2 linked regions of the Homo sapiens genome follow. The protein of the gene in region 1 interacts with the protein of each later gene in a pairwise test. Each region holds a gene or a part of one and is shown in the gene's direction. Other genes may lie near its edges.

Evidence for each region.
Region 2: the proteins of FCHSD2 (region 1) and CCDC183 interact in a two-hybrid assay, tested with the Homo sapiens proteins (one large-scale study listed by BioGRID).

Annotation. Positions count from the first base shown.
Region 1 is NC_000011.10:72,887,305-72,891,116, reverse strand, and holds part of FCHSD2 (F-BAR and double SH3 domains protein 2), read left to right. Parts: intron 1-1,171; coding exon 1,172-1,288; intron 1,289-3,542; coding exon 3,543-3,647; intron 3,648-3,812. UniProt on the Homo sapiens protein: Adapter protein that plays a role in endocytosis via clathrin-coated pits. Contributes to the internalization of cell surface receptors, such as integrin ITGB1 and transferrin receptor.
Region 2 is NC_000009.12:136,802,693-136,806,504, forward strand, and holds part of CCDC183 (coiled-coil domain-containing protein 183), read left to right. Parts: coding exon 1-94; intron 95-1,234; exon of another isoform or gene 1,235-1,809; coding exon 1,810-1,935; exon of another isoform or gene 1,936-2,069; coding exon 2,070-2,124; exon of another isoform or gene 2,125-2,664; coding exon 2,665-2,765; exon of another isoform or gene 2,766-2,892; intron 2,893-3,357; exon of another isoform or gene 3,358-3,385; coding exon 3,386-3,546; intron 3,547-3,692; exon of another isoform or gene 3,693-3,811; coding exon 3,812-3,812.

The DNA of each region.
Region 1 (3,812 bases):
GTGAGACCTTATCTCTAGAAGGAAAAAAAAAAATGAGCTGAGTATGGTGACACACACCTGTAGTTCCAGCTACTCAGGAGGCTGAAGTGGGAGAGTCACTTGAGCCCGGAGGTTGAGGCTGCAGTGAGCCGTGATCAGAATTTCTAAAATTCTTTTCATTCTACAATTTTGCTGCTTTCTATATTAAAAGCCTCTTTGGGTAATTTATATTTTAAAAAAAATTCCTAATTATCTCAATAAAGTTTGTTTTTCTTGGGTCTTTAAGAATTTAGAGAGAATTAAAATAGTTTTGTGTTTAATAGCTCTGATTCTGGAATCGGTCAATTAAGGTTGTAACATTTAACATCTAGGACATCCAGGAAAAATTAACCTCTCTGAGCCTCTGTTTTCTTTTCTATAAAATGATGTGGGACCCACATCATCAGGTTGTTAAAAAAAAAAAAAGTTATATGAAGCACTTTCCATAGTACCTTGCACAATAGAAGTTAGCTATTACTATTTTTATTTAGATTTTGTGGTTTGTTCTTTGTAAATCAGAATCATAGCATTTTAGAGCTAGAAGAAACCCTTGGTGATCATTTGATCTAGCACCCTTATCTTTCATATGAAGCCTGGAGAAAGAGCAAAAGCTGGCTTTTGAGGTTTGGTGGCAAGTTGATGGTGGACCTCTAAAGAGTTCCGTCTGCCTTGGGGCAGGGGGAGGGGTGCAAGATTGTGTTGCTGTTATTATATTGTTTTGTTCTTACTTCTCTTTAATGATTCTTTACTCACATTTAAACTATTAAGTTGTTTCCATTTTTATTTATGCAATGATTTTATCACCATAGTAGGTTGGCATGAATACATTTTCTTCTTTGCTTACCTTAGCTAGCTTCCTTCCCACTCGGAAAGATAAGTCCATCACACCCAAAAAGATAAGTCTGCAGTATTATAGATGATGCTTTTGTGTTCAGCAGTGTAAGACAAAAAGCTTATGGTCTTTAATGGTTTTATGCTGATCTTACTCTTCTGGTAACTTTCTGTGACGTTAAGACATTGCTTCCAGCAGTAGTGGAGCGTGCCTCATGTTTTGAGTGCTGATTAAGTGAAGGCCTTCTGATCCATCTACAAAGCAGTAGTGGTTACAATAAGGATAGCAATATTTTTATCTCTGTTCTCTCTTGTATTGTAGAGCCGACAGTTAGAATCAGAAACTGGGACCACAGAGGAGCACAGTCTAAATAAGGAAGCTCGAAAATGGGCCACACGTGTGGCACGTGAGCATAAAAACATTGTTCACCAACAACGGGTAAGTGTAAGAGAAAGTCCTAGTTACATTCACCTTAAGCCAAATGTCAAACAGTTTAAGGAACTGAGTTTTATTAATGTGAAAAATATCCTATATGTGTTGTTTTGTTTTATTTGAGACAAGAGGCTTGCTCTGTCACCCAGGTTGAAGGGCAGTGGTGTGAACATGGCTTACTGCAGCTTCAACCTCCTGGGCTGAAGCAGTTCTCCCACTTCAGCCTCCCAAGTAGCTGGGACCACAGGCACATGCCACTATGCCTGGCTAAATTTTTTTAGATTTTTTGTAGAGATAGGGTCTTGCCATGTTTCCCAGGCTGGTCTCAAACTCCTTTGCTCAAGCATTATATGTGTTTTTTCTGTACTTTCTCAACACTCAGCAGTGTGCTGTCAGCTATCTACTCATGTTGGAATTTCCTTAAGCCCTCCATCAGCAATACATTAATTTACCTGTTTACCATAAAATTAACAAAGAAAATTGTGATAGTGTATTATGGGCAGGGGAAGAGACATATGTTGAATTAATATAAGTTTTCATCCCTCAAGACATATTTTTTAAAAGACATAATTATAGCCGGGCGCGGTGGCTCACGCCTGTAATCCCAGCACTTTGGGAGGCCGAGGTGGGTGGATCACAAGGTCAGGAGATCGAGACCATCCTGGCTAACATGTGTTACGGTGAAACCCCATCTCTACTAAAAATACAAAAAATTAGCCGAGTGTGGTGGCGGGCACCTGTAGTCCCAGCTACTCGGGAGGTTGAGGCAGGAGAATGGCATGAACCTGGGAGGCGGAGCTTGCAGTGAGCTGAGATCACGCCACTGCACTCCAACCTGGGCGACAGCGAGACTCTGTCTCAATAAAAAGAAAAAAGAAAGACACAATTATAGATTTCATGAAAATATATGTTTGGCTGGGCGCAGTGGCTCACGCCTGTAATCCCAGAACTTTGGGAGGCTGAGGCAAGTGGATTGCTTGAACCAGGAGTTTGAGACCAGCCTGAGCAACATGGCAAAAAACCCGGTGTCTACAAAAAATTCAAAAATTAGTCGGGCATGGGGGCGCACACCTATCTTCCCACCTATTCGGGAGGCTAAGGTTGGGGAGAATTGCTTGAGCCCGGGAGGTGGAGGTTACATTGAGGTAAGATCATGCCTCTGAACTCCAGACTGGGTGACAGAGAAAGACCCTGTCTCCAAAAAAAAAAAAGAAAGAAAGAAAGAAAGAAAATATATCTCGAAGACTAAACTCTAAGCACAAAGAAATTATTTGGAGTATAGTACTTTTTTTCTGTTTCATTTATTGATACCTATATCCGTCTCATTCTTTGCCTTCACATCCTGCTTCTTAAAAGAATTGCCTATGCTTATTATCTATAGAATCTCACCTCCCACTTACTTTTTAGCCCATTACATTTGAGCTTTCCTGTCCTTTCCTTCCCCTGTCTAAGCTTACCAAAATCGCCAATGATGTCTGTGTTGCTAGCTTCCAAGTGGACACTTTGATTTCTCATTTTTCTTAATCTGTCAACAATTTCATCACAATTAACAATTCCATGTCTTAAAATGTTATCTTCTCTAGTCATCCACGATTCAACATTGTCCTGGCTTTCCTTCTGCCTTTCTGGCCATACCTAGATTTTTTCATGGGTTCCTCTTTCTCCATCCCACAATGAAATATTCAGTTTCTCAGATTCCTATACTTGGCTATCTTGTTTTCTTATTCTTTACCCTCATATAGGCATTCTCAGTCACTTCCATGGTTTTACTTTACCACCAAATCATAAATTAACATCTTCAACATTGGGCCTTGCTACTACTGTGTATCCATATAATCTCTTGCCTGTTTTGACATCTTCTTTTCACTATCTCACAGGTGTCTCAAATTCAGTGTTCCACTTATGTAATGTTGCTTAACAAACCACCTCAAACTTAATGCCATAGAACAAGAGGGTTTTTACATTATCTCTCACTAATCTGAGTATTGGATGGTCTCAGCTTAGCAGTTTCCCTTGGGGTCTCTCATGTGGCGGCAATCAGATAGTGGCTGGTCCTGGCTTCCCCACTGAAGGGACTGTCTGTAGTAAGTTTGTTACTAGTAAGTCTATAATTATTTCAAAATGTTCAAAAAATAAATAAATGAAAAAAAATTATGGCTACTAGTCACTAAAGCCCTTTGAATTATGTAAATACTTTAATCACTTAAGGAAGATGAAAAGTAAAAAACAGTCATCATTATTGTCCCATTTTCTTTAATAGGTTCTAAATGATCTGGAGTGTCATGGAGCTGCTGTATCAGAACAAAGCCGAGCAGAGCTAGAACAGAAAATAGATGAAGCTAGAGAAAATATTCGTAAAGCAGAGGTAAGGTGGCAGCTAATTGTGGCATTTTGCCCAGGTCTAATGACACTGTCACAGCTGTGATATACATCTTTAAAACTGAGTTTCTACACACACTGAGATGAAGGTGATTCACCGTCTTCATTCGTGTCCACAGTAGTATTTGTTGAGTACCTGCTCTGTGGAAGG
Region 2 (3,812 bases), on another chromosome or scaffold:
CAAGCTGCAGAACCTCGTGGTCAACTACTGCTCAGAGCTGTCGGATATGAAGATCATGTCCCAAGATGCCATGATGATCACGGATGAGGTCAAGGTGAGCTCAGGGCCCAGGGCTGGGGGCCCCCCAGGGCCAGCCCTCTTGGATCTTCGGATGGGGTCAAGGTGAGCTCAGGGCCCAGGGCTGGGGGCCCCCCAGGGCCAGCCCTCTTGGATCTTCGGATGGGGTCAAGGTGAGCTCAGGGCCCAGGGCCGGGGGCCCCCCAGGGCCAGCCCTCTTGGATCTTCGGATGGGGTCAAGGTGAGCTCAGGGCCCAGGGCTGGGGGCCCCCCAGGGCCAGCCCTCTTGGATCTTCGGATGGGGTCAAGGTGAGCTCAGGGCCCAGGGCCGGGGGCCCCCCAGGGCCAGCCCTCTTGGATCTTCGGATGGGGTCAAGGTGAGCTCAGGGCCCAGGGCTGGGGCCCCCCAGGGCCAGCCCTCTTGGATCTTCGGATGGGGTCAAGGTGAGCTCAGGGCCCAGGGCTGGGGGCCCCCCAGGGCCAGCCCTCTTGGATCTTCGGATGGGGTCAAGGTGAGCTCAGGGCCCAGGGCTGGGGCCCCCCAGGGCGGGCTCTCTTGTGTCTTCTGGCCAGGGTCTCTCAGGAGACCCCCATGCCCACACTGCCTACAATCCCCAGAAGGATCCAGTGGCCAGCCCGGCCAGCCTGCTCTGCTCACCCACTGGACAGAGCAGGTCCCATCCAGCACAGGAGCCATGAAGTAGAGGAGAGGGAGAGAACTGGCCGGGCCAGGGCGGGGGTCACCTATTCACCCAGTCTGTGCCAAGGTCCCTGCAAGGCTCTGGGGATACAGCAGGGACCGGGACAGGCAGACCCTGTCCTCCTGAAGTGGGTGGCACTCATCCAGTAGTCCATGAAGAAATGCCACACAGCCCCTGAGCCAGCTCAGCAGAGACAGGTGGGGTGGCAGATGGCTTTCCAGGAAGACAGTGCTTGAGCTGGGCTGAGGGATTGAACCCGCAAAGGTCAGGTGTGGCCAGGGCTAGGGAGGAGGAGGTACAACTTGGGAAAAGGCCCTGGGCTGGGAGGGGTGTGATACATGGAGCAGCGTGTGGCCAGGGCAGTGGAGGCTGCAGAGGCACAGGCCCCAGGAGTCCACGGAGGCGGCTGGGCTGGGGGCCCAAGGACTGACCTGGAGCCCTGGGAGGAGGTGGAGGAAAGATGTGACCAGGTCTGTGCTTCAGAAAGGGTGTACTCAGGCTGCAGGGACTGGAAGGTGCCAGGGCAGAAGCGCTGATCACCTGGGTATACCCGGGGTGGAGAAGGGGTGGCCAGGAGCAACGGAGCTGAGAACTCCTCAAGAGGCAACCCCACTAAGCGCTGGCAACGAGAGTGGCGAGGGTGAGAGCAGTGTCTGGGGTGCGTGAGCAGGGGTTAGCAGATGACGGTTTTAGCTGCCCAAGGGCACGCTGGAAGAGGCCAGGTTTTGGGGAAGAGGATGAATCTGTCTTCAGGCAGGCTGAATGCACTTCCGTGAGTTCTAGGTGGACCTGGCCAGGAGGCAGCTGGGGGCCAGCGGCTGGAGGGCAGCAGAGCGTCTGGGCTGGCACATGCTCTGAGGCATGGGCAAGGAGGGCCGTGAGCTGAGGGGCCACGGGCACAAGTGGTTTAGGAAAAGGGTGTGGCCATTGGCCGGGGATGCAGTTCCAAAGTCTAGTAAGGTGAGCATGGCCAACCGCCCGCTGGCTTTACTGCCATTAGGGGCCTTGTTGAGACAGCTCCCCAACCCTGTGCCCACCCGCATGTCCCCAGAGGAACATGAGGCAAAGGGAGGCGTCCTTCATCGAGGAGCGCCGGGCAAGGGAGAACCGGCTCAACCAGCAGAAGAAGCTGATCGACAAGATCCACACGAAGGAGACCAGCGAGAAGTACCGCCGGGTAAGCCCCAGGCCAGGGCCTGGCTGGCTGCCCATCCCCATGACAGCTGGGTGGACACAGGCTCAGGGCCACCACTCAGGGCCCACTCCCTGCCAAGGATGTCTCATCCCTTCCCCGCCCCCACCTCCCATCAGGGCCAGATGGACTTGGACTTCCCCTCGAACCTGATGAGCACGGAGACCCTGAAATGTAAGCGCTCAGCTCCCCACCTGCCCCCAGCCAGGGTCCCAAGGAGAGGCTGGCACTGATTCAGGCCAACGGATCAAGTCACCCTGAGGCCAGGTGTGACATGTGGTCGCCAGGGTGAAGGGAAGGACAGGTCCCTGCCTCTCCCTCCAGAGGCTGAGAGCCTGTAGCCAAATGTGGCCTCAGAGATGCTGGCCCCAGCACCCAAGGGCCCTGCACCAAGGGCCCAGTCCCCAGTGACTCTGCAGAGGATGAGCATCCTGACCCCTAAGCTGCCTCTGAGAAGCACCACCGGGCCCACAGTGCTCACAGTGCTGCGCCACTCACTCCGGGTCCACCTCTGCTCTGGGGCTGCCTGGGGCGTCCCTGCAGGGCTGGGCTGAGGAGGGAGCAGGTTGGGGCGGGGGCAGGCATCTCTGAAGGATGCCTGTGTCTTGGGTGGCCGCCCCAGCAGCTGGGCAGGTACAGAGGTGTCTGACAGCCTTACACAGAGCCCCTGAGCCATCCCTGCATGCTGACTGCCCCTCCCCTCTGCTCTGCCAGTGAGGAGAAAAGAGACCTCCACAGCAGAAATGGAATACCAGTCGGGCGTGACTGCTGTGGTGGAGAAGGTCAAGAGTGCTGTACGGTGCTCTCACGTCTGGGTAATGCCCCTGGCGCTCCCAGAGAATGGCAGGAGGGTGGCTGAGCCTCTCACGTCTGGGTAATGCTCCCTGGCACTCCCGGAGCATGGCAGGAGGGTGGCTGAGCTGGGCTGGGGTCTGAGGCACTCTGAAATGGACACACAAAGTGGCAACTCCCTCGGCCGCCCCAAATCCTTTTATCTTAATCCCATCTGTGTATCTGCGTTTATTATTATTAGGCCTTGAGCTCCTAACCACTGCCCTGACACAAGCTTGTCCACTGTCAGACAAGTGACTCAAGTGACACAACGTCCTTCAGTGATGATCTCCTTATCTCTACATGGGGTTATCTACCCTCTCTGCCTGCCATTAGGGTCGTGTGCAATGACATCCACAAAGCGCTTCACCCCTGCTAAGTGTGGTGGTGCACACCTGTGGTCCCAGCTACTCAGGAAGCTGAGGTGGGAGGATCGCTTGAGTCTGGGAGGTTGAGGCTGCAGTGAGCTGTGATCACACTTGTGAATGAGCACAGAGAAAGTGCACTAGCGTCTAGGAGGGGCCCAGAAGAAACCAGTTCTGTGAAGCCCCCTCTGCCCACCATCCTGGCCCACACCTGCTTCTCTCTCCCCCGGACTGGCCAGGACATCACTAGCCGCTTCCTGGCCCAGAGGAACACGGAGGAGAACCTGGAGCTGCAGATGGAGGACTGTGAGGAGTGGCGGGTGCAGCTGAAGGCCCTGGTGAAGCAGCTGGAGCTGGAGGAGGCCGTGCTCAAGTTCCGCCAGAAGCCTAGCTCCATCAGGTGCCCCGGGCTTCCGGGGCTGCGGGCCACCCACCCCAGTCTCACAAAGGCCCCGGGCTGCAGCCAGGCTGGGAGCTGGGAGTATACCCACTGCCAACAAGCCTGTGTGTCCCACAGAGGGGCCAGGGGACTCCACTTGCACACACCTGAGCTTCTGAGTCCCTGATTCTGGCACAGCACCCAACTCAGGACTGGGCTCCTGGGTGGCCCACCATGGCTCTCGGGCCTGTGCCCCTCACTGCTGTGTCCCTATTGCCTTCTGCAGC